Regions from separate parts of the Homo sapiens genome. Here all the other regions are linked to region 1. Evidence: fine-mapped expression QTL. A gene starts in region 1. Each other region holds a variant in brackets. All regions are shown on one strand. Distances are between the middles of the regions. Region 1 holds the start of CCDC159 (coiled-coil domain containing 159). Region 2 overlaps PRKCSH (PRKCSH beta subunit of glucosidase II). Region 3 has its middle 40 kb from the start of ZNF627.

Region 1 (8,173 bases):
CAGAGGTTGTAGGGAGCTGAGATCGCACCACTGCACTCCAGCCTGGACAACAAGAGTGAAACTCCGTCTCAAAACAGAACAAAACAAAACAAAACAAAACAAATAATACATGATATGTCAGTGGTTAACAACATGTCTGGTATACAGCAGGTGCTCAATAAATGGGCATCATTATAGGAGAGGCTTACAGGATAAAATGGCTGACACTCCAAACCATCATGCTTCATGAATGGGGAAACTGAGGCTCTTGGCTCTACCCTTGCCTGCCCCTCCCCCTGCTTCTCATGGGGGAAAAAAAAAAGACAGCAGCCATTTCTGAAGAAGCATTTATTAGCATGCAGGGCCCATGCTAGAGGCTCCTTATTTCCAGGGCAAGGCCAGCGAGACAGAGCCCATTGCTCAGGACGCAGCCCAGATTGCAAAGAGAGGACAGCCCATGGTAGCGGAAGAAATTCTGGCGGAGAGCACTGTACTTGGGGTCCTTCTCTCGCAGCTGGCGGTAGGGATCGGGACCCTGGTGGCTGCCTGGTACCTCCCCACCCAGGCCTCGCTCCTTCTCCACGGTTTGCAGGGCCCACATGGCAGCTGTGGTGCGGGGTTCCAGCCAGCGGGCGTTGACAGTGGCCAGCGTAAGGCTCAGGAACAGCAGGTAAAGCTGGCAGGGAGAGCAGAGGAGAAGGTGAGCCATGCCTGGGAGGCCAGAGGGGCCCTAGGGAGGGTCTTTCTGCATCCTCAACAGCACAGGGGTGGGGGTGGGGACAGCACTGGATCAAAAAACCTGCCTCCCCCTCTTTCCTTGAACCCAGACTGAGGGACCCAAAGCAGAACTCCAGCTCTTCTACTCTGAAACTGGCAGCTCTGAAGGAAAGGCTCCATCCCCACCTCCTCTATCCCCCCGCAAAACCTCCCGAGCCTCTTCTCCTCTGATACTCAGACTGGAAGTCCCCAGAGCAGGATCTCTTTCCTCAGTGGCCACAGCCCAGACGCCTGAAGCTGACATTGGACCCACAGAGGGTGAATAAAAAGTCTTTGAGTGGCTGGGCGCAGTGGCTCATGCCTATAGTCCCAGCACTTTGGGAGGCTGAGGTGAGTGGATCACTTGAGGCCAGGAGTTCAAGGACAGCCTGGGCAACATGGGCAAAACCCCGTCTCTACTAAAAATACAAAAATTAGCCAGGTGTGGGGGCTGTCCCCCTGTAATCCCAGCTACTCAGGAGGCTGAGGCATGAGGATTGCTTGAACCCGGGAAGGAGAGGTTGCAGTGAGCCAAGATTGCACCACTGCACTGCAGCCTGGGCGACAGAGCAAGACCCTGTCTCAAAAACAAACAAAACAAAACAAAAAGTCTTTGAAGGCAGGCATGGTGGCTCATGCCTGTAATCTGTAATCCCGGTGCTTTCAGAGATGGGGGTGGGAGCATCACTTGAAGCCAGGAGTTCAAGACCAGCCTGAACAACACAGCAAAGACCCTCATCTTTTTTTTTTTTTTTTTTTTTGAGACTGAGTTTCACTCTTGTTGCCCAGGCTGGAGTGCAATGGCGTGACCTTGGCCCACTGCAATCTCCGCCTCCTGGGTTCAAGCAATTCTCCTGCCTCAGCCTCCCAAATAGCTGGGATTACAGGCGCACACCACCACACCCAGCTAATTTTTGTATTTTTAGTAGAGACGGGGTTTCACCATGTTAGCCAGGATGGTCTCGCGCTCCTGACCTCGTGATCCACCCACCTCAGCCTCCCAAAGTGCTGGGATTACAGGCATGAGCCACTGCGCCCAGCCTATTTTTTTTAATTAGGAAAAATGTTTTTGCCATTCTCACATTGCTATAACACCATCTCTATCTGTTTTAAGTATTTGAATACCTTCTGAGCCTGTTTCATTAAAATAAATAAATAAAAGGAAAAAAAAACAGTCTGTGAAGTTCTAGTTACCCATAATCCCCTCCTGTCTGTGAGATTATTCTTGAAACACCTGTCAGGTCTCACTTACCCACGTCTATGAAACATAATGCAGGCAAGGGAAGGCCAGAGTAAATAGAGAAATCTGAGATGCAGAGATAGTTTCTTGCCTTGTGGCCAGAAAAATGTGTGGAAGGGGATAGGAAACCATAAATTCCCAGTCGGGCTGGTTTTTAAACAATAAGCTGGGGTCAATGTGCCAGCTCAGCTGAGTCACCACAGCTTGGCAGCAGGCCCAGCCAGCGGGAGGAGAGGGAACAGCAGCTAGCAGGGAGATGCTGGGGGATAGACAGGGCTGCTGGGGACTGTTGTACAGGCTGTGCACTGCTCAAGGGTATCCAGAGCCCAGCTTTGTATCTACCAGGAAGAAGGGGCTCCCCTCCCCTCCCTTCCTCTTCCCTCCCCTCTCCTTTCCTCTCCTCTCCTTTCCTTTCCTTTTTTTTTTTTTTTTTGAGATGGAGTCTTGCTTTGTCGCCCTGGCTGGAGTGCAATGGCATGATCTCGGCTCACTGCAACCTCTGCCTCCTCGGTTCAAGCAATTCTCCTGCCTCAGCCTCCTGAGTAGCTGGAATTACAGGTGCACACCACCACGCCTGGCTAATTTTTTTGTATTTTTAGTAGAGACGGGGTTTCACCATGTTGGTCAGGCTGGTCTTGAACTCCTGACCTCGTGATCCGCCCACCTCGGCCTCCCAAAGTGTTGGGATTACAGGCGTGAGCCACCATGCCTAGCCTTTTTTTTTCCCCCCCTGGAAAAGGTGTAGCCATAGGCGCTGACTGAGGTCCTGGGAACAAGTCTCCAGAGGGCAGTGGCACTCAAACCCACGTACCTGGCTGGCCTCCCAGAATGTGAGCTGAGCCCAAGCATGCTGTGAAGCCAAGATGCAGAGGTTGATGAAGGCACAGCCCATGGAGATGTGGAAGTAGAAGGGGAAGAGTTTGCTCTGCACTAGTCCGAAGGTATGTCGGGGAAGGCTTCGGAAAAGCAGGAAGCCTGCAGGGTATGGGGACCACAGGGGTGTTAGGGCACTTCCCGGTTCCCCTCTTATTTCCATCCCCACCCCAGGTACCCATGACATCCAAGCTGAGGGTCCCTACCTGAGACGAAGGTCACCCACATTTGCATGCCCCAGGCACCTGACAAGACCAGTAGATGGACCATCTTAATCAGGCCTCCTAGGTTCCCGCCTTCCTCCATCTTGCAGTCCTGGGAAGGAGGCACCGGGTGGCTCAGAACTTTACCTTTGCCTCATGCGTGGCCTTCAGACCCTGTGAGCCCGCTCGGGGACAGGGTTACGGCCAATCCAGCAGAGATTCTGGCAAAGCATCCCGGGAATGAGAGTGAGAAAGGCCCAAAGCAGTCAAGGCCCAAAGACAACCCTCGACCCCATCTCTCCAAATGTCAGCCCTCAAGATCTCAGGCTCTCTGGACCTCAATCTCCATGCCACTTCAGAGGCCCCAAATTTCAGCCACAGCAGCTCCAGATCATAGCCCTAGGTCTTCAGAGATCACTCCACTAATTCCCAAATATCACCCCAGGGATCCAGTTCTGACAGCCAAGACCACTCCTCTCATAAAATAATACCGGATATTAGGTGAAGATCCCGAAAGCCCCGAGGAAACCCTAAATCTCATCCTGAGGACACCGATCCCACCAAAGCCCCGAGGAAACGCCAAATCTCATCCCGAGGACACCGATCCCACCGTTAGGAACCGGGACCTCAATCCGCAGCACCCGGATTCCGAGAACAGAGGCGTCGGGGCCAAATGGGCTGAATCTGGTACCTCACTCCCACGCCCCCGGGTGGACAGCGACCCTCCTCGGCCGCGTCCCCTCGTGGGTTTCCCCCAACCAATAATTCGTCCCGCCTCCCAGCTGAGCCCGAAGCCAATCGGGTCGTAGATCTGCACCTTTCTATCCCGCCCTCCTGGGTATTGACTAATCGTAGAAACCCCCCTGGGATCCCGCCCCCTCCACGGGCTTTTATCCAATTACGCCGCGGCTACTAAGCGCAGCTGAAGCGTGAAGGCGCCAATGAGGCCTTCGGCTACTCCGGCAGGGGCGGAACTAAAATGCCGGCCACACCCCTCTCTGTGACTCAGTCTCTGAGCGTTTTAATACGATGGTGTCCCCGCGGGATCAAACTTCAGCGTCACAGCTGAGGACTGGCTTCGTGGTCCCTGATGGGAGAGCATGAACAGGTGGTATGTGGTAGGTGGGGTTCTGGAGCCTGGCGGGTGTAGATTTCACAACCCAGGGGGCGGAGCCAGGATGATGACCCCGCCCCCTCCCTAAATAATTCTCCCGGGAGGGACACGGAAGCAGCAACCGGGATGGGACGGGGAGAGAGGAGGCACTACTGGGGACCTAAGCTGGTTCTCAAATGCCTCTCCTTTTCCCCTCCAAGCCTCCCAGGCTTCCTATGGTCCCTAAGTCCCGGGTTCTCAGCGTGACATTCCAGAGCAAACACAGCTCCCCATTACTCTATACCAGGCACTGGCATGGATTAATTTATCTAATCACAACATCCCAGTAAGGTGACTATTATGACATCTCGTTTTTATAGTTGGGGACACTGAGGCATGGAGAGGTTCAGTAACGCGACCAGTATTACACAGCTGGAAGGGACAGAGCTAGGATTTGAACCCAGGCCATCTAGCTGGAGAGTTTCCCTGCTTAACCGTCATACTCTGCTGTCCCTGGAAGTGAGGACCTCCCTGAGGCAGTGACTCTCGGAGGGGCAGCTTAGGACATTTCAGGCAGAAGAAAAACGTGTACATCACAGGGTGGGTGTGAAGATCCAGTGAATGCTTAGGGGATGCCCGGCACTCAATTAGGTGCTCAGAAAATAGGAGCCTAAAAAAGGATTAAGGAAGATTTTACTGAAGATATGCTGAATAGTTTTTGTTTGTCTGTTTGTGTTTGAGACGGAGTTTCGCTCTCGTTGCCCGGGCTGGAGCACAGTGGCATGATATCGGCTCACTGCAACCTCCGCCTCTGAGGTTCAAGCGACTCTCCTGCCTCACCCTTCCAAGTAGCTGAGATTACAGGCATGCGCCACCACGCCTGGCTAATTTTGTATTTTTAGTAGAGATGGGGTTTCTCCATGTTGGCCAGGCTGGTCTCGAACTCCTGACCTCAGGTGATCCACCTGCCTTGGCCTCCCAAAGTGCTAGGATTACAGGTGTTAGCCACCGTGCCCAGCCTGAGTAGTTCTGAAGAGCGTGTAGGAGTCTTCCAGGTCGACTGAATCAGGCAGAGGGCCTGGCAAGGGTGACAGAGAGAAAGGTCTAGAGGATTTGGGGGAAGAGGCTGAGTGTGACTCAGGGCAAGGTGCCTTTCACCTAGAAGTTTCTCCAGGCAGACCTGCCCCAGATATCTCCATCTGTGCCATATGTGGCTATACTGGAGGGGGAGGGGAGTTGAATGTGAGACCCAGAGCTCAGCTGTTTCCTGTTTCCAGCCTCTTCTAGCACGGGTCTGGGCCCCAATTCAGCTAACATTTATTGAACAGATATGCCCTGCCTCTCCTGCTCACACTCTATGGCTGGCATTCACCTGTGGGGCCAGGTCGAAACTCCTGGCTTGGCCGTCAATGCCTTACTGGAGCTGCTCTGCTAACCTCCTGCTGCTTCCTCTCGGACCTCGATTCAGCCATCATGAATTTACCAGCATAGAGCATGTGATTCCACACCTCCAAGCTTTTGCACATGCTGCTCCCTGCCAGGAAAGGCCTTCCTTTAAGCCAATGTCAAGGTCCCTTTTTTCTTTGGACTCTTCTGAGGCCTGATTTTTTTTCTTTGGGGCCTTCTGGGTCCTTCTCACTGCCCAGCCCAAACCTTGGGGCTGGGATAATCTTTTTTGTTGTTGTTTTTTATTTTTGGAGACTGAGTCTCACTCTGTTGCTGAGGCTGGAGTGCAGTGGTGCAATCTCGGCTCACTGCCACCTCCGCCTCCCGGGTTCAAGTGATTCTCCTGCCTCAGCCTCCCGAGTAGCTGGGATTACAGGCGCCCACCACCATGCCCAGCTAGTTTTTGTATTTTTAGTAGAGACGGGGTTTCACCATATTGGCCACGCTGGTCTCGAACTCCTGACCTCAAGTGATCCTCCCGCCTTGGCCTCCCAAAGTGCTAGGATTACAGGCGTGAGCCACCATTGCTGGCCGCGTCTGGCCTTGGGATCATCTTTTATCCAGCTTTGGCTCCTACCATAACTGAGAAGCCTTGAGTTTAGGGCTGAGGCCTCTCTGGCATGTCAGGGAGGGTCTGGGGGCACTGGGGACATGGGGACTTATCTCAAAGCAGCCCCTGCTTCCCTACTCACAGCGACCCTCTTTTGGCCGGCCTACCCCGGGACCCTGACTACTCTGTGTCCTGCCTCTACTCACCTCCCTCACCCTCCAGCATGTGTTTGCCTGCTAACATGAAGTGTGACAAGTACTGGGGTTAGTTAGGGGGCTCCCATAGGGCTGGGGACACTGGGAGGGGCTGGGAATGTGAGGAGTGCCCTGCACTGTCCCTCAAGGAAGCCCTCACCCCTAGGCTCTTCCTCGGACAAGGCTCTGGAGCGTACAGCTCACTGGTCCAGGACTCCAGAGCCAGAGACCTTGGGATGCCCTGCTTCTGGGGACACAGTGAGGACTGCAGACTGCAGGCCAGGGTGGGGCTCAGGGCCTTCGCCACATGAGGCTGCCCCCTCCCCCAGTCCAGACCTGCAGAAGCAGTGCTGTAATGACCAGGACATTTTGAAGAGGCATCACAACGTAGCTAAGGTCACCCCCACCCGGGAAACCCCTTCAATGCAGAAAACCACTGCAATCTACTGCTGTGGGGCTTAGGGAAGGGGCTGTAAGGCAGAGAGACTCCCATGAATGCACCCACTGTGTTTCTTCAGCACCTAGAACAGCACCTGGCACTCAGCAGGCCCTGGCTAAGCAAGTCTTAAATGAATGGATGAAGGAATGAATGGAAGGAAAGAGTGTGGTTGTGTGTCTTCCATGGGGATTTGGCTGTGATCGTCTCTCAGCCACATAAGTGCACTTCTGAGCATATGTAGCCCAAGGGGGAGGTGCATGAATATGCCTGGAGTGCAGCTTTGCCTGCACTTACGGTTTGGGACACCTAGAACTGAGGAGATCCAACTCTTGTCCAGCCCTCAAAACTGGGTTGAGGTGAGCAAGGAGGCAGCTCAGGGACAAATTTCTACTCCCATCTCATCTCTCTTCCTTAGAAGCCCTTGGAGACCAGCTCTTCCAAAGTCAAAGGTGAGAAATCTCCTTTCCAACAAAACTGTGTGGGGAAGACCTGCTGGTTTCTACCTCTACCCTCTGCCCCAGCATCAGCTGTCCCCCTGCCATGGTCACCCATTCACTCCTGCCCAAGGCTGAGTGGGCCCCTGTTCTATATCTTATCCCCTGTCCCTACTGCTACTCTGAGCCTTTGCTGACCTCTGCCCTGCCCTTGCCCCAGACCCCACCCCTTACAGCCCTGGCTCACCCTCTTCTCTGCCCACAGCCAAGACCATTGTGATGATTCCCGACTCCCAGAAGCTCCTGCGATGTGAACTTGAGTCACTCAAGAGCCAGTTACAGGCCCAGACCAAGGTGAACCACCTTGGCCCTGCCCCCAGCAACCTCTGTTTCTCCTTGCCCTCCCCTCCTTCCTCCCACCCCAAGGCTGACCTCTTTCCCCCAGGCTTTCGAGTTCCTGAACCACTCAGTGACCATGTTGGAGAAGGAGAGCTGCTTGCAGCAAATCAAGATTCAGCAGCTTGAAGGTGAGGACTGACCAGAGATCAAGGTCAGGCTAGGCCAGGCGTGGTGGCTCACGCCTGTAATCCCAGCATTTGGGGAGGCCAAAGAGGTTGGATCACTTGAGGTCAGGAGTTTGAGACCAGCCTGGACAACATGGTGAAACCCCATATCTACTTAAAAAAAAAAAAAAAAAAAGCCAGGTGCTGTCACTCATGGCTGTAATCCCAGCACTTTGGGAGGCTGAGGCAGGTGGATCACCTGAGGTCAGGAGTTCGAGACCAGCCTGGCCAATATGGTGAAACCCCATCTCTACTAACAATACAAAAATTAGCCAGGCGTGGTGGTATGCACCTGTAGTCCCAGCCACTCAGGAGGCTGAGAAAGGAGAATTGCTTTCTGGGAGGCAGAGGTTGCAGTGAGCCGAGATCACGCCACTGCACTCCAGCCTGGGCAACAAAGCAA
Region 2 (8,173 bases), 100 kb after region 1:
AAGCCCCGTGTGACCCCGCCTCTTACTCGTGGATGGCCAGGTCCAGGATGCCCTGGGCGAGGAGATAGGGGGACCACCCTCTCCCCAGGAGCTGGGCACAGACCCTCAGCCTCAGGGAGTGTGTCTAGGCATCTAGTGATCGGATGGCTTTTCCCAGCCCCACTACGCTCTGGGGAAAGCCAGACCTGGGTTCGAATCCTGGCTGTGCCTCTGAGCTTGCTGGGTTACCTGGTGGAGGGTGGACTTTTGGGGGCTGAGAGGCACACGGGGAGCCTAGGAGATGTCAGGTGCCAAGGAGCAGGGGGCTTCAGAGGGACCGAATGGGCAAGGGTGGGGGTGGGCTTTGCTGGGTGGGGGACCAAGGCAGATGGCAGCTTCAATGTGCCGGGTCCTGGGGTGGAAGGAGGTGCCACCTGGGTGAGTTGGTAGAGAGGTCATCGGACATTTGGGGGTCCAGGTATCTCCCAGTCCCACCCCTTACTTTGAGCTCCTTTGGGGTCATGGAGTCCTGAGGAGGGGGCAGGAGGGTGGGGAGGCCCCTACACCTTGAGGTCCTGAAGCAAGTTCCAGGGTGGGGCCCTGCAGGGAAGAACAGGTGGGCCACATGGTGCCCCCAACTGAGAGCCACTGGGGCCTCACCCCTCCAGTCTGCTTCTGCCACGCCCCCGCAGGGTCTCGGTGACTGAGCTGCAGACTCACCCGGAGCTGGACACAGATGGGGATGGGGCGTTGTCAGAAGCGGAAGCTCAGGTACCCCCGGCTGCCCCTTGGTTGGGGACTTCTAGGGAGCATTGCCCCAGGGTGACCTCAGGGCACAGGAGGGGGACCAAGGAAAGCTCCTTGCTGGCCTGGGATGCCTCCTCTGGGTGAGCTGGGATGGCAGCCACTCAGGGCCGCTTCCCGCCTGGCAGGACCCGGGATGGAGCCAGGTCGCGCTGGAGCCCGTTTCCCCGCACCTGCCCCCACTCTACCCGCTGTTGAGCACCCAATCCCCTTCCTCCCCCACCCCTGTCCTGCCCTATTCCCCTCCTCCCCCACACCCTCGTCCCCTGTCTGTCTCCTTTCCTATCCTCCTCCTTCCCCGTGGCCCCTGGCTTCTGGCCTCCCTTCTCTGCCCACCCCTGGGTTTCTCCCTCTCCATCTGCAGCCTGGGCCTTGGCCTCTCCCTTGGAGGGCCTGGCCCTCTCTGGTCCTGGGCTCTCTCTTCCTCCATCTGTACGTCCGTTTGTCCATCTGCTTCTCTCTTTCTGTCTCAGTGCCCCCAACCACTCCAGCCCCTGGTCTCCTCCTCCCCTCCCACGGGCCTGTGCTGCCCCCTCCTGGCCGCAGTGCCTCACTGGCGTGGCCCTGGCCTGGTCATCAGGGCCCGGGGCCCAGCCCTCCCGTGCCTGGCACCGCAGCCCGGGTGCCGGGGTGGCCGAGATGGGGGACACGTGGTGGCCTAGATCTTGACACCACCCCCAACACACACAGGCCCTCCTCAGTGGGGACACACAGACAGACGCCACCTCTTTCTACGACCGCGTCTGGGCCGCCATCAGGGACAAGTACCGGTCCGAGGTCAGTGGAGGAGAAGGGAGGGGACTTGGTCCTCCCACCACACTGCCCCCACCCCGCCTCACAAAGGAGCTGCCTCTGGTTCTGGCACCTGGCCACCCTGGCCAGCTGGGTGGCCCCAGCACCCCCCACCGAGACCCCCCGACCCCAGCTGTCGGTCCTCCCTGCAGGCCCCGCAGGAGGGGCAGAGACACCGAGGCTGCCCCTTGGGCTGTGGTGTGAGCCTGAGGGTGTGGGTGGACCCTGAGTCCACAACACCGACCGCACTGCTCACCCGCCAGGCACTGCCCACCGACCTTCCAGCACCTTCTGCCCCTGACTTGACGGAGCCCAAGGAGGAGCAGCCGCCAGTGCCCTCGTCGCCCACAGAGGAGGAGGAGGAGGAGGAGGAGGAGGAGGAAGAAGAGGCTGAAGAAGAGGAGGAGGAGGAGGATTCCGAGGTGCAGGGGGAGCAGCCCAAGGTCCGTGTTTGGGGGAGAAGTGGAGACAGAGAGGGTGGGGGAAGGGCTACTCACTGACCCTGCCCCTGCCCCAGGAGGCCCCACCGCCACTGTCACCCCCGCAGCCGGCCAGCCCTGCTGAGGAAGACAAAATGCCGCCCTACGACGAGCAGACGCAGGCCTTCATCGATGGTGAGGGTGGGCGGGGGCCAGGCTCCTCGGGTGGGCCCAGCGTTTCCTGCCGTGGTGGCACAGGTCGAGGGAAGATCCTGAGCTTAGACCCTGCTCTGACTCGGCCAGCACAAGCCCCAGTATCTTGGGGAGTCCAGGAAGGGGGCCTAGGGTAAGCCAGTCCCACCCTCGCCAGCCCCAAGGGGCCCTTCTGCCTCCCCAAGGGCCGCAGCTTGTTTGTGTCACTCCTGGCCCCACTCGCTCAGGAGCTGGGAGCCTGGGCAGCAAGTCGGGGCTGCTCTATAGCTGGTGAGGCCCTCAAGGCTGTCGGGGTGAAGTCCTTGGCCAGAGCAAAATGAGGGTATGGGAGCACACAGCCACATCCATGGAACCCCGTTCCCCATCCTCCTGGATGGGGTTGAGGACATCTCTGACCTCCAACCCCTCTCCCAGCTGCCCAGGAGGCCCGCAACAAGTTCGAGGAGGCCGAGCGGTCGCTGAAGGACATGGAGGAGTCCATCAGGTAGCGGGGGCTGAGGAGCGGGGACACCTGTCCCACAGCGACTGCTCCTTGACTCCCAGGGGAGCTGGTGATGGGGAATCACTGAGGCAACCACAGGCTGGGCCTGGTCCCTGCAGGGAGGGTCCCTGGGAGGTGGCAGGGAGGACAGCCTGGGCACCATTGCTCAGCCAGACCCTCCTGTGTCTGTCGTCCTGGGTCAGGCACTGGCGTCCCCAGCTGCCCCTTAACCGCTCCGCCTCCCCTTCCAGGAACCTGGAGCAAGAGATTTCTTTTGACTTTGGCCCCAACGGGGAGTTTGCTTACCTGTACAGCCAGTGCTACGAGCTCACCACCAACGAGTGCGTCCCAGGAATGCAGGGGCCCCCACTGGCAGGGTGGGAGGCGGGTGGCCCCGGAAGTGGCACCGGCAGTTTCCTGATGGTTGGGGAACCATCTGCGGGTGGGGCCCGAGAGTGCTGCCTTCCATATTGAGGGGGAGCAGAAGCCAGGGGCCAGGTTTAGGGTTGGTCATTGGAGTTGGAGGTACCCTGTGTGTGGGGACTGGAGGAGGCGGTGGGGGGTGGCTGTGGGAGGAGGCTGGAATCCCTGCGTTCCCCAACCCATATGTCCCGGTCCTCCACAGATACGTCTACCGCCTCTGCCCCTTCAAGCTTGTCTCGCAGAAACCCAAACTCGGGGGCTCTCCCACCAGCCTTGGGTGAGTGGCTTGGGCTGGCCCCTTCCCTCTGCCTCCTCCTGGTGCCCCGACACCGGCCCAGCCCTCAGCACCCTGTGTCTCTCACAGCACCTGGGGCTCATGGATTGGCCCCGACCACGACAAGTTCAGTGCCATGAAGTATGAGCAAGGCACGGGCTGCTGGCAGGGCCCCAACCGCTCCACCACCGTGAGTGCCTGCAAGGCAGGGGAGCTGGGGCGGGGAGACCCAGGCCTGGCCCAGCCGAACCCTCTCGAGCACCCGTCTGCCCATCCCCAGGTGCGCCTCCTGTGCGGGAAAGAGACCATGGTGACCAGCACCACAGAGCCCAGTCGCTGCGAGTACCTCATGGAGCTGATGACGCCAGCCGCCTGCCCGGAGCCACCGCCTGAAGCACCCACCGAAGACGACCATGACGAGCTCTAGCTGGATGGGCGCAGAGGTGGGCGGGGAGGTGGAGTCTCGTCGGCCTGCCCCAGCAAGGGGAGGCGGCGGGCCCTGAGGAAGATGGACCCACATGGCCACTCTATCAACCTGTGTCCCCATGTTCCCTGCTTTTTTGTTTTGTTTTTTTGAGGTGGAGTCTCACTCTTTGGCCCAGGCTGGAGTGCAGTGATGCGACCTCAGCTGACTGCAACCTCTACCTCCCGGGTTCAAACAATTGTCTTGTCTCAGCCTCCCAAGTAGCTGGGATTACAGGTGTGCACCACCATGCCTGGCTAATTTTTAGTAGAGATGGGGTTTCACCATGTTGGCCTGGATGGTCTCGAACTCCTGACCTCAGATGATCCACCTGCCTTGGCCTCCCAAAGTGCTGGGATTACAGGCATGAGCCACCACACCCGGCCATCTCCTGCCTTTTTTTTTTTGGATGGAGTTTCACTCTTGTTGCCGAGGCTGGAATGTGGAATGCAATGGCGCGATCTCGGCTCACTGCAACCTCCACCTCCTGGGTGCAAGCAATTCTCCTGCCTCAGCCTCCTGAGTAATTGGGACTACAGGCGCCGCCACCACGCCTGGCTAATTTTTTTGTATTTTTAGTAGAGATGGGGTTTCCCTGTGTTAACCAGGTTGGTCTCGATCTCCTGACCTCGTGATCCGCCCTCCTCAGCCTCCCAAAGTGCTGGGATTACAGGCTTGAGCTACCATGTCTGGCCATCCCCTGCTTTTTAAAAAAA[G/A]ATTTTTTTACTTTTGAAACTAAATAGGCCAGGCGTCGTGGCTCACATCTGTAATCCCAGCACTTTGGGAGGCTGAGGTGGGCGGATCACTTGAGGTCAGGAGGTTGAGACCAGCCTGACCAACATGGTGTAAAACCCCATCTCTACTAAAAATACAAAAAAATTAGCTGGGTGTGGTGGTAGGTGCCTGTAGTTCCAGCTGCTCAAGAGGCTGAAGCACAAGAATCACTTGAACCCAGGAGGTAGAGGTTGGAGTGAGCCAAGATCATGCTACTGCACTCTCCAGCCTGGGCTACAGAGTGAGACTCTCAAAAAAAAAAAATAATAATAATAAGAGAAAATAGACAAGGTCTCCAGGCTGGTCAACTCCTGGCCTCAAATGATCCTCCCACCTCAGCCTCCCAAGCAGCCGGGACTACAGGCAAACATCACCATGTCCAGCTGTCCCCAGCTTTCTAATCTGGTCTTTCTCTTGCCCCAGAACCTCAAGAAGGCATGAAGCCAGCCCCTGCAGTGCCGTCCACCCGCCCCTCTGGGCCTGCCTGTGGCTCTGTTGCCCTCCTCTGTGGCGGCAGGACCTTTGTGGGGCTTCGTGCCCTGCTCTGGGGCCCAGGCGGGGCTGGTCCACATTCCCAGGCCCCAACAGCCTTCAAAGATGGGTAAAGGAGCTTGCCCTCCCTGGGCCCCCCACCTTGGTGACTCGCCCCACCACCCCCAGCCCTGTCCCTGCCACCCCTCCTAGTGGGGACTAGTGAATGACTTGACCTGTGACCTCAATACAATAAATGTGATCCCCCACCCAAACTTGTCTGTGTCTGCCTCGCTTTGCTGGGGTGTGGACCGGGGTGTGGGCAGGGGTTGAGCGCAGGGGACGCAGCTTTCTGCAGATCCCACCCGGGCCTCCCCCACCATCTGGGGATCACTCCTGAAGATACCAGGTGGATGGACCCTGGACCATTTCTGTCTTGAGCATCCATCCGGGCCCGTGTCCCACCTTCCCTGGGTCTCATCTGTGCTCTGTGGAGGCCAAGGGTTCCCTCCCGGGGCCAAAGCCCCTGCTGCAGACAGACCCAGGCCCAGAGAAGGACGGGGGCCTGGGCGCTACTACACAGGCTGCTCCTGCGTGCTCCCCGCGCAGCGGTGCAGAGATCACCCAAGGCCTTAAGATTCTGAACTTTTATTTTCTGGCATGAAAAGTACAAATAATTAAACAATTCCATGTAAAAGTCTGTTACCGCGGCCAGGCCTGTGATCCCGGTAATAAATAGTCTAAACGCAACGCGAAGTGTTCTTGTTGGGTTTTTTTTTTTTTTTTGTCTTTTGTTTTGTCTTTTTTTTTTTTTTTTTTTTTACAGTTTTTTATCACCTCCAACATGGACTCTGTCGTGATTTGAAACCTTCCGAATAAATAACAGGATGAAGGGAGGGGTGGAGGGGCTGAGCCCCCTCCCCCCTGGCCTGGCCCCTGCCCCCCAGGGACGTGGAAGCCCCAAGTCCCCCTCGCCTGGGAGCCCCGGCCTGGCCCCCTGCGGGGAGGGGCTGGCCTCCAGGGAGGGGGCCTGGCTGGGCTGAGTTTTGTGTTTTAGAAAAAGAAGTCCCCTCCCAGTCTTGGGGGTGGCAGGGGCCTAGGCCTCGGTGGGGGGGGGGTGTGTGGGGAGGTGCCCCCTCTCTGGAGCCTGGCCCCCCCCAGGGTGGGGGACAAACCCAGCCCTTATTGCTCGGACGCCCTGCTGCAAGCTTCCCACGCGGACGTGCGTGTTCCCGAATGCAGAGGGCGGAGGGGAGAGAGCCCCAAGAGACAGCAGGGGAGAGGGGTCCCTGCCCTGCTGCAGGGGAGAGGAGAGAGGGCAGGGAGGACTTAAAACCACGAGAATAAATAGGTTCGTGTATCAAGAACAAGCTAGGGATTTCACCAGCTAAATAGGACTGAAAAAATTCTCAAGACAAGAGCAAAAAGAATCCCATTGGTGACCTGGACGTCGCTGGCCGTGGGGACTGTCCCGCAGAGCACACGCCCCCGCGTGCCACTCGGCTACCATTACTGTTATTAATAATTATTATTACTTTAATGATTCCACTTCCCCTTTTATAAATAAATTAGGCATAACCATGTCTCGGCAAAACTTAAAGAAACAAAGAGAACATTGTCGTTCCTTTAACTTGCAAACCGGATGAAGTAACAGAAATATACACGGATGTCCTTACAGGGCAACGAGGAGAATAAATAGTTAACATAGCAATAAGTTAAAACTACAAGAAGCTAAATTCAGCAAAAAAGTACAAGAAAGTTAACTGGTGCCAGTTTATGTCTTTTTTTTTTTTCCTTTTTTTTTTTTAAATCTCTTCTGTGTGTTTTCTTTTTTTGTTGCTTTTTTTTCCTCTTCTGTTTGTGTTTTTTTGTCGCTTTTTTGATTTTTTTCTTTTTTGTTCCTTGCAGCAGAAGCTCCACAGACGTTTAATAACAACACCGGGAGGGGTGGGGGAGAGAGAGCTGGACAGTCAGATGGGGGCGCCATAGCCAGACACCAAACGTGGGGACACCGGGGGAAGGCAACTTAACTATAGCTAAAGTCGGGGGTTTTGCAATTCTCAGTTCCGATGGGGCCGCTGAGTGGGGTGGGGAGCGGTGCGAGGGCTCCCAGGGGCTCCGGCCTGTGGCTTCTGTTGGAATTTTTTTTTTTTAAAGAAAGAAAACTAGGGCGATGCAATGTCCAGACAGAAGCCGGGGGCCGGGGCTCGAGATCGGGGGCTGTGTCCACTGCAATCTGGAAAGACGAAAAACCCAACAAACCGAAAGGGGATAGGTAGGTGACAAGTGGACGGGAAAGGAGTGTGGGGCTGGGCCTTTGGGCCCATCCACCCCACCCTGGGCCTGGCGGGGAGTGCCGGGGTCTTGCTGCCGGGGAGGCCCAGTCCTGGTGGGGGAGGCTCAGGGCTGGGCCTCTCCCTCAGCTGTGTGGGCCAAGGCCTCGGCCCAGGGGGAGGCTGAGCCCCGGGGACAGGGGTGTCCTTTGGCCTCAAGTGTTGTGGGGGGGGGGGCTGCCTCCAGCCCACCGTGACGCCAAGGTGGAACGAGGTATCGTGTGTCTCAATGCATGTGCGCTGCGTGTGCACGCCTGTGTTCGTGGGCGCCAAGGAGACCGCTGGGGGTCCAGGAGAGATCTCTGCAGAGAACCTGGGGGCCAGGGCGAGGGGGCCGAGAGGGTGAGGGAGCGTCTGGGGCAGGGTCTGGGGTGGGACCTCCTGCCTGGGCCTGTGGGATGCTATGGGCATATGTCTGCGTGTTCCTGGGTGGTGTTTGTGTTTCTCCGTGACCTGGTGTCCAAATTTGATGTCCAAATATCTATCGCTACATTCACGTGTGCACGTGGACAGGTGGATGGATTCGTGTGCCCACATCTGTGGTCTGTGTCCACATGGACGTAGCCCCAGCTTCTGTCTCTTTCTGTCTATCCCTGTCCACGTGTCTGAGTTTGGCCAACCAGTCCCTTAACGTGTCTGGGGCATGTCGCTGTGTCCGTCTGCGTCTGTCCGTGTGTCCCCGTGGTGTGACTGTCTGCGTGGTTGTTTCTCTGTGTGGCCCCGTGGGCTGCTAGCCCCTAAGCCCTG
Region 3 (8,173 bases), 290 kb after region 1:
ATCCCCAAGACCATGGGGAAAATGTCTCCAGGCCACATCAGACACGTTTACACAGCCCTTCCCATCACAGGCCCGGAGGCCCAGGAGGAAAAAGTGGTTTCACGGGCCAGGCCCAGGGTCCCCGTGCTGTGTGCAATGTAGGGACTTGGTGCCCTGTGTCCCAGCCACTCCAGCCGTGACTGAAAGGGGCGAACGTACAGCTTGGGCTGTGGCTTCAAAGGGTTGAAGCCCCAAGCCTTGGCAGCTTCCGCATGGTGTTGAGCCTGCAGGTACAAAGAAGTCATGAACTGAGGTTTGGGAACCTCCACCTAGATTTCAGAAGATGTATGGAAACACTTGGATGTCCAGGCAAAAGTTTACTGCAGAGGTGGGGTGCTCATGGAGAACCTCTGCTAGGGCAGTGCAGAAGGGAAATGTGGGGTCAGAGCCCCCCCTACAGAGTCTTTACTGGGGGCACTGCCTAGTGGAGCTGTGAGAAGAGGGCTACCATCCTCCAGACCCCAGAATGGTCGATCCACTGACAGCTTGCACTGTGCACCTGGAAAAGCTGCAGACACTCAACACCAGCCCGTGAAAGCAGCTGGGAGGGAGGCTGTACCTGCAAAGCCACAGGGGCAGAGCTGCCCAAGACCATGGGAACCCACCTCTTGCATCAGTGTGACCTGGATGTGAGACCTGGAGTCAAAGGAGATCATTTTGGAGCTTTAAAATTTGAGTGCCCTGCTGGATTTCAGACTTGCATGGGCCCTGTAACTCCTTTGTTTTGGCCAATTTCTCCCCTTTGGAATGGCTGTATTTACCCAATACCTGTACCCCCATTGTATCTAGGAAGCAACTAGCTTGCCTTTGATTTTACAGGCTCATAGGCGGGAGGGACTTGCCTTGTCTCAGATGAGACTTTGGACTGTGGACTTTGGGATTAATGCTGAAATGTGTTAAGACTTTGGGGTACTGTTGGGAAAGCATGATTGATTTTGAAATGTGAGGACATGAGATTTGGAGGGGTCAGGGGTAGAATGATATGGTTTGGCTGTGTCCACACCCAGATCTCAGCTTGAATTATATCTCCCAGAATTCCCACATGTTGTGGGAGGAATCCAGAGGTAGTAATTGAATCATGGGGGATGGTCTTTCCCCTGCTGTTCTCATAGTAGTGAGATGGGTTTATCAGGGATTTCTGCTTTTCCTTTTTCCTCATTTTCTCTTGCCGCTGCCATGTAAGAAGTGTCTTTTGCCTCCCGCCATGATTCTGAGGCCTCCCCAGCCATGTGAAACTGTAAGTCCAATTAAATATCTTTTTCTTTTTTTCTTTTCTTTTCTTTTCTTTCTTTTTTTTTTTTTTTGAGATGCAGTCTTGCTCTGTCACCCAGGCTGGAGTGCAGTGGCATGATGTCAGCTCACTGCAACCTCCGCCTCCCGGGTTCAAGCAATTCTTCTGCCTCAGCCTCCTGAGTAGCTGGGACTATAGGCTTGCACCACCATGCCTGGCTAATTTTTGTATTTTTAGTAGAGACGGGGTTTCACCATCTTGGCCAGGCTGGTCTCGAACTCCTGACCTCATGATCTGCCCACCTCAGCCTCCCAAAGCGTTGGGATTACAGACGTGAGCCACCGTGCCCGACCAACATCTTTTTCTTCCCAGCCTCAGGTATGTCTTTATCAGCAGTGTGAAAACGGACTAATACATGGTTATTACACATTGTATGCCTGTATTAAAATATCTCTTGTACCCAATAAATATATACACCTACTATGTACCCCCCCACACACAAAAGATAGCGTTCTTTGTGTTTTTAAATAGGTTTTGCCTTAAAGTCTAGTCAAGTATGATAATGGCATATCCACTCTTGTTCTCTTTTGGTTACTATTTGCGTGGAATACCTTTTTACCTCTGTATTAGGCTTTTCTTGCTTTGCCATAAAAATACCTGAGGCTGGATAATTGATAAAGAAATGTTTTATCAACTCATGTTTCTGCAAGCTTTATAGGAAGCATGGTGCTGGCATCTGCTCAGGTTCTGGGGAGGCCTCAGAGTTTTTACTTTTGGTGGAGGGTGAAGCCGGAGCAGGCCTCTCACGTGGCAAAATAGGAACGAGAGAGAGAGGTAGAGGGGAGGTGCCACACACTTTCAAACCACCAGACCTTGTGCGAACTCAGAAGAAGAGCTCACCTATCACTAAGGGGATGGCCCAAGCCATTCATTAGAGATCTGTCCCCATGATCCAAACACCTCCCACCAGGCCCTGCTTCCAACCTTGGGGATTGCAATTCAATGTGAGATTTTGCGGGGATGTACATTTAAAGTATATCATCTTCCATTCCATTTCGAGTATTTTTTGTCTTGGGGTATAAAATGAGTGTCTTGGTCATGCATTATGGCTCATGCCTGTAATCCCAGCATTTTTATTTTTTTAAGACGGAGTCTCGGCCGGGCGTGGTGGCTCAAGCCTGTAATCCCAGCACTTTGGGAGGCCGAGGCGGGCGGATCATGAGGTCAGAAGTTCAAGGCCGGCCTGACCAACATAGTGAAACCCTGTCTCTACTAAAAATACAAAAAATTAGCCGGGTGTGGTGGTGTGCACCTGTAATCCCAGCTACTCAGGAGGCTGAGGCAGGAGAATCGTGTGAACCCGGGATGCAGAAGTTGCAGTGAGCCGAGATTGTGACATTGCACTCCAGCCTGGGCGACAGTGGGAGACACTGTCTCAAAAAAAAAAAAAAAAAAAGATGGAGTCTCACTCTCGCCAGGCTGGAGTGCAGTGGCGTGATCTTGGCTCACAGCAACATCCGCCTCCCAGGTTCAAGTGATTCTCCTGCCTCAGCCTCCTGAGTAGCTGGGATTACAGGCTCGCGCCACCACACCCAGCTAATTTTTGTATTTTTAGTAGAGATAGGGTTTCACCATGTTGGTCAAGATGGCCTCGATCTCTTGACCTCGTGATCCACACGCCTCAGCCTCCCAAAGTGCTGGGATTACAGGCGTGAGCCACCGTGCCCGGCCATTCCTAGCATTTCTGGAGACTGAGGTGGGAAGACTGCTGGAGGCCAAGACTTCAAGTTCAGCGTGGGCAACATGGTGAGATCTTGTGTTGAGAAGAAATTTTTTAAAATTTACACAATTAATGACATTTTAATGTCATTCTATCAATCAATATTAGGTAAGTATTAGGTGTGACTGATATTCTGGATATGTATAAAATTAACTCAATATTTGAGATATGAAAGCTGCCAGGGCCAGGCGTGGTGGCTCACACCTGCAATCCCAGCACTTTGGGAGGCTGAGGCAGGCGGATCACCTGAGGTTAGGAGTTTGAGACCAGCCTGGCCAACATGGTGAAATCCCATCTCTACTAAAGATACAAAAAATTAGCCCAGCATGGTAGCATGCACCTGTAATCCCAGCTACTGGGGAGGCTGAGGCAGGAGAATCGCTTGAACCCAGGAGGTGGAGGTTGCAGTGAGCTGATATCGTGCCACTGCACTCCAGCCTGGGCAACAGAGTGAGACTCTGTCTCAAAAAAAAGAAAAGAAAACTGCCTTTTATTTTTAATTTTTTGTATTTTTATTTTTGAGACAGAATCTCACTCTGTCACCCAGGCTGGAATGCAGTGGCTCAATCACTCATCACTGCAACCCCAACTGATTCTGGGCTCAAGTGATTCTCCTGCCTCAACCACCCTAGTAGCTGGGACTATAGGCACATGCCACTACGCCTGGCTATTATTTAACTTAATTTTTTTTGGGGGGGGATGGAGTCTTGCTCTGTCACCTAGGCTGGAGTGCAGAGGCGTGAACTTGGCTCACTGCAACCTCTGCCTCCTGGGTTCAAGCAATTCTCCTGCCTCAGCCTCCCAAGTAGCTGGAATAACAGGTGGCCACCACCATGCCTGGCTAATTTTTGTTTTGTATTTTTAGTAGAGATGGAGTTTCACCATGTTGGCCAGACTGGTCTCAAACTCCTGACTTCAGGTATCCACCCACCTCAACCGCCCAAAGTGCTGGGATTACAGGCATGTGTCACCGCACCTGGCCCCGCCAATGTTTTTAACTTAAATTTTCATACTCATGCACGTAACTCCACATTCTCCTCTATTCACAGGCCCTGATAATCTCTATTCTACTTTATCCCTTTATGAATTTGACTATTCTAGGCACCTCATATAAGTGAAAGTATACAATATTTATTCTGGTGTCTCTGGCTTATTTCACTTAGCATAATGTTTTCAAGTTGCATGCATGTGTTAACGTGTCAGTAATTCATTGCTTTTTTGTGCCTGAAAATATTCTATTGTAGGGATAAATCACCCTTTGCTCATCCATTTGTTTGTTGATAAACATGTGGGTTTTTTCCACAGTAATATTCTGAATAAGGCTGCTATGAAATTGGTGTACATGTGTCTCTGTGTGTTGTGCTTTTGATTTTTTAGGATATATACCTAGGAGTTGAATAGTCACAGGGGAATTCTAAATTCACCTTTTTAAGGAACAGCCATACTGTTTTACACAGTGGCTGCAATGTTTTACATTCTCTACATCAGTGCACAAGGATTCCCGTTTCTCCATGTCCTCATCCACACTTATTATAATTTTTTTTTTTTTTTTTGAGACGGAGTCTCACTCTGT[C/T]GCCCAGGCTGGAGTGCAGTGGCACAATCACAGCTCACTGCAGCCTTGACTTCCCTGGCTCAAGTGATCCTCCCACTTGAGGATCACTGGGACCATAGGTGCTAAGATGGGACTACCGGTCTGACCCCTGCTTTCCATCGTGGCCTGAACTAGATTTCTAGATTTTCAGGTTTACTTTGGGATGCCCTTAGCCGAGAGGGGAATCCTTCAGTTTGGGAGAGAGGGGTGGGCTTTGAATTTTATTTTTGGTTTACACATAGAATAGCTGGAGTCGGAGTGTGATTTGATATATGTAGAAAATCTGTTAAGGTCAAGACCCATTGGATTACCTTATGGAGAAAAGGTTTATGAATTTGACAATTTATGTCAGTCAGTACCTTAAACTGACTCCAGGTGAGTTTCCTGCTGGTGAAAATGAAGGTCTGGGGCTGGGCGCGGTGTCCTTGTCTCTACAAAAATACCAACATTAGCCAGGCATGATGGCGGGTGTCTGTAATCCCAGCTACTCTGGAGGCTGAGGCGGGAGAATCCCTTGAACTCGGAAGGCGGAGGTTGCAGTGAGCGGAGATCGCGCTATCGCACCCCAGCCTGGGCGACAGAGCGAGACTCTGTCTCAAAAAAAAAAAAAAAAAAAAAAAAAGAGAGAATATGATGAAGGTCTGGAAGGAGAGAGTGTTGCCACACTATGCAGACAGGACAGGAAGGCATGTTGAGAGCCTAGAGTTAAATCCTTCAGTGTTCAGGCCTCATCACCAGGTTCTGATCGGTTCTGGGGCTCTGTTTCAGCAGTCAGAACCTGGCTCCCAAGAATCTGTTTAACCTCCTGAATAGGGGGTTTCCTGCTGAACAGTGGCTGAAAAACTGCTTCTCTGAGCTAGTTCATGTTTTTGCTTTTCTTCTCTTTTGATTCCTTCATAGAATATTGCTGCCATATAATTCCAGTTTTTCCACACATTTAACAATTTTATTCCATTGTTGCTGTGTTTTTATTTTCTTGGTGAAAACGAGTAGACTCCAGGGCGCGGTAGCTCACGCCTGTAATCCCAGCACTTTGGGAGGCCGAGGGGGGCGGATCACGAGTCAGGAGATTGAGACCATCCTGGCCAACATGGTGAAACCCCGCCTCTACTAAAAATACAAAAATTAGCTGGGGGTGGTGGCGCGTGCCTGTAATCCCAGCTACTCAGGAGGCTGAGGCACGAGAATCGCTTGAACCCAGAAGGCGGAGGTTGCAGGGAGCCGAGATCGCGCCACTGCACTTCAGCCTGGCGACAGAGCGAGACTCCGTCAAAAAATAAAATAAAAAATAAAAAAATAAGACTGAGAGATCAGGTGGGAGAAAGGCTTGGTCATGCAGCCAGCAGCTTCATCCCAAATTCCTGATCCCTGGAGGACATCAGACCCCCTCTCCTACTGCAGTGTGGCCTGTGTGGCCTCGGCTCCCCTTCTGCTCCGAGGCCAGGGGATGTCTCCACTGGACAGTGAGTCTGGGATTCCCTGCACACAGTTGTGACCCCCCAGTCCCGGAGGAAGAAGCAGGAAGGGCTCGCAGACTATTGGCAGGAATTCTTCTTAAATGCAGATATTCCCCGGGAGGGGTCAGGTCACTGCCCAGGGAGGAACCCCCCCTCCCCCGCCCGCCCCATGCCAAGAGCTGTGTCTGCAACCTGTTCATCTGGCTCCACTCAGCACTGGGAGATCACTTCTTCTGTCGCTCAGTGCCTAGGGGGCGGGACCTGGAGTACTATCCAATCAGAGCCGCTGGGCGGGGCCGTGAGAACTGTCAATCAGGCGTCCAGGAGGCTGGAGGATGCGAGGTTGAAAAAGCCCGCGGCGTCTTCTCTGTCACCCGCGCTCGGCTCCCTGCTCGGTCGGGCTGGAACCTGTACTGGCAGCCGGAGGTGTAGGTAGGAACCGGAATACCTCGGAAGCCGGGAAATGGTGAGTGTCCGAGGCCGGGGTTCCCGAGACAGGGTACAGCTGGTTGTAACCGACCGGAACCGGCTGTGGCGGGACCCAGACCTCCTCGCTGTTGTCTCTGGGGTCTGAGGACCCGAGTGCCCTGGCCCAGCTCGGTCCTCGGTCCTCTCGGCCTCAGGGTGGGGCTGGGCCTGCAGCCAGGACTCCGGGCGTCCTGTCCGGTCCCCGCGCGGCAACTGCGGCCCAGGTTCCGGAGTCCTCTCTGGGCAGCTCCGCGTCCGCAGCCCCGCGTCTCCCTAGATTGTGCGGGGACACGGGAGGGTCATGGGGGGAATCCTCCTCGGGTGTGGGGTTCATGTGGAAGGAGCAGCGGTCTGTGGGGTCCCCAGTTCCTCCTTTGTCTCCAAGGGGCTCGAGTTTTTACTGAGATATCCAGATATATGCGAAGCAGGGTCTCAAATCCGCAACTGTGATCCCTGGCCTAGCTTCTCCTAGGGCTGCCAGCAAATCCCTGGATTTCCAGATCCCGCTCCGCGTTTTAGAGCTGGCCTCCTCTTCAGTTCACCACAACAATGTCAACTCTTCGTCCCCCAGGCTTTGTTTCAAACATAGCCATATATATGTGTGTGTGTGTGTATATATATATATGTGTATATATATATATATGTGTATATATGTATATATGTGTGTGTATATATATATATATATATATATATATATTTTTTTTTTTTTTTTTTTTTTTTTTTTTTTTTTGTGACAGAGTCTCGCTGTGTCGCCCAGGCTGGAGTGCAGTGGCGCAATCTCGGCTCACTGAAACCTCCGCTTCCTGGGTTCAAGCGATTCTCCTGTCTCAGACTCCCGAGTAGCTGGGATTACAGGCGCCCGCCACCACGCGCGGCTAATTCATGTATTTTTAGTAGAGACGGGTTTTCACCGTGTTGGCCAGGCTGGTCTCAAACTCCTGACCTCAGGTGATCCACCCTCCTCAGCCACCCAAAGTGCTGGGATTACAGGCATGAGCCACTGCAACCGTCCTCACACGTTTTTCATGTATATATGAATTATATATATATTAAATATATATATATAATTTTTTTTTTTTTGGTGGAGACGGAGCCTCACTCTGTTGCCCAGGCTGGAGTGCAGTGGCACGATCTTGGCTCACTGCAACCTCTACCTCGCGGGTCTCCTGCCTCAGCCTCCCGAGTAGCCGGGACTGCAGGCGCGTGCCACCATGCCCGGCTAATTTTTGTATTTTAGTAGAAACGGGGTTTCACCATGTTGGCCAGGCTGGTCTTGAACTCCTGACCTCAGGTGATCCGCCCGTCTAGGCCTCCCAAAGTGCTGGGATTATAGGTGTGAGCCATGGCGCCTGGCCACACGCAATATTTTAATAGGCTTTTTTTTTTTTAAGAGGGCAAAATATGGCTCTTTTTGTAAAGATTTGTTGTGTGTTTGTGAACATTTCACACTTGAGGAAGCGGAGAAAAAGCACCTGACACTTGCTGTAAACAATCTTTATGCCTCTCCTCCTTTTATCTGCCCGAGGCACGGACACCTTCTGAGAATGTCTTTGGGTTGAGGTTTATCTTTGGAAACTTTACAGGGCGATGTGTCCTCAACTCACCCT

What was found.
Region 2: its variant is fine-mapped to the expression of CCDC159 in whole blood (INTERVAL, PIP 0.97).
Region 3: its variant is fine-mapped to the expression of CCDC159 in visceral fat (GTEx, PIP above 0.99).

Annotation. Positions count from the first base shown.
Region 1 is chr19:11,342,466-11,350,638 of GRCh38, forward strand. CCDC159 (coiled-coil domain containing 159) reads left to right here and starts at 4,054. Exons shown (of 11, transcript NM_001080503.3): 1 at 4,054-4,162; 2 at 7,189-7,222; 3 at 7,473-7,561; 4 at 7,653-7,734. The coding sequence starts at 4,142. It overlaps TMEM205 (transmembrane protein 205), which reads right to left and starts at 3,803. Exons shown (of 3, transcript NM_198536.3): 1 at 3,055-3,803; 2 at 2,787-2,950; 3 at 313-655. The coding sequence starts at 3,154. The coding sequence ends at 350. RefSeq lists enhancers at 3,324-4,154, 8,005-8,173.
Region 2 is chr19:11,445,601-11,453,773 of GRCh38, forward strand. PRKCSH (PRKCSH beta subunit of glucosidase II) reads left to right here. Exons shown (of 18, transcript NM_001289104.2): 9 at 672-750; 10 at 1,474-1,560; 11 at 1,839-2,018; 12 at 2,093-2,189; 13 at 2,622-2,691; 14 at 2,940-3,029; 15 at 3,314-3,388; 16 at 3,476-3,575; 17 at 3,666-3,828; 18 at 5,046-5,368. The coding sequence ends at 3,812. It overlaps ELAVL3 (ELAV like RNA binding protein 3), which reads right to left. Exons shown (of 7, transcript NM_001420.4): 7 at 5,726-8,173. Among named protein-coding and RNA genes, the nearest start is that of PRKCSH, 14 kb to the left of the region's middle. RefSeq lists enhancers at 6,512-6,561, 6,592-6,711, 6,636-7,406. The variant G/A (reference allele first, on the strand shown) is at 4,565.
Region 3 is chr19:11,633,333-11,641,505 of GRCh38, forward strand. No RefSeq gene overlaps it. Among named protein-coding and RNA genes, the nearest start is that of ZNF627, 40 kb to the left of the region's middle. RefSeq lists a silencer at 6,340-6,429. The variant C/T (reference allele first, on the strand shown) is at 4,624.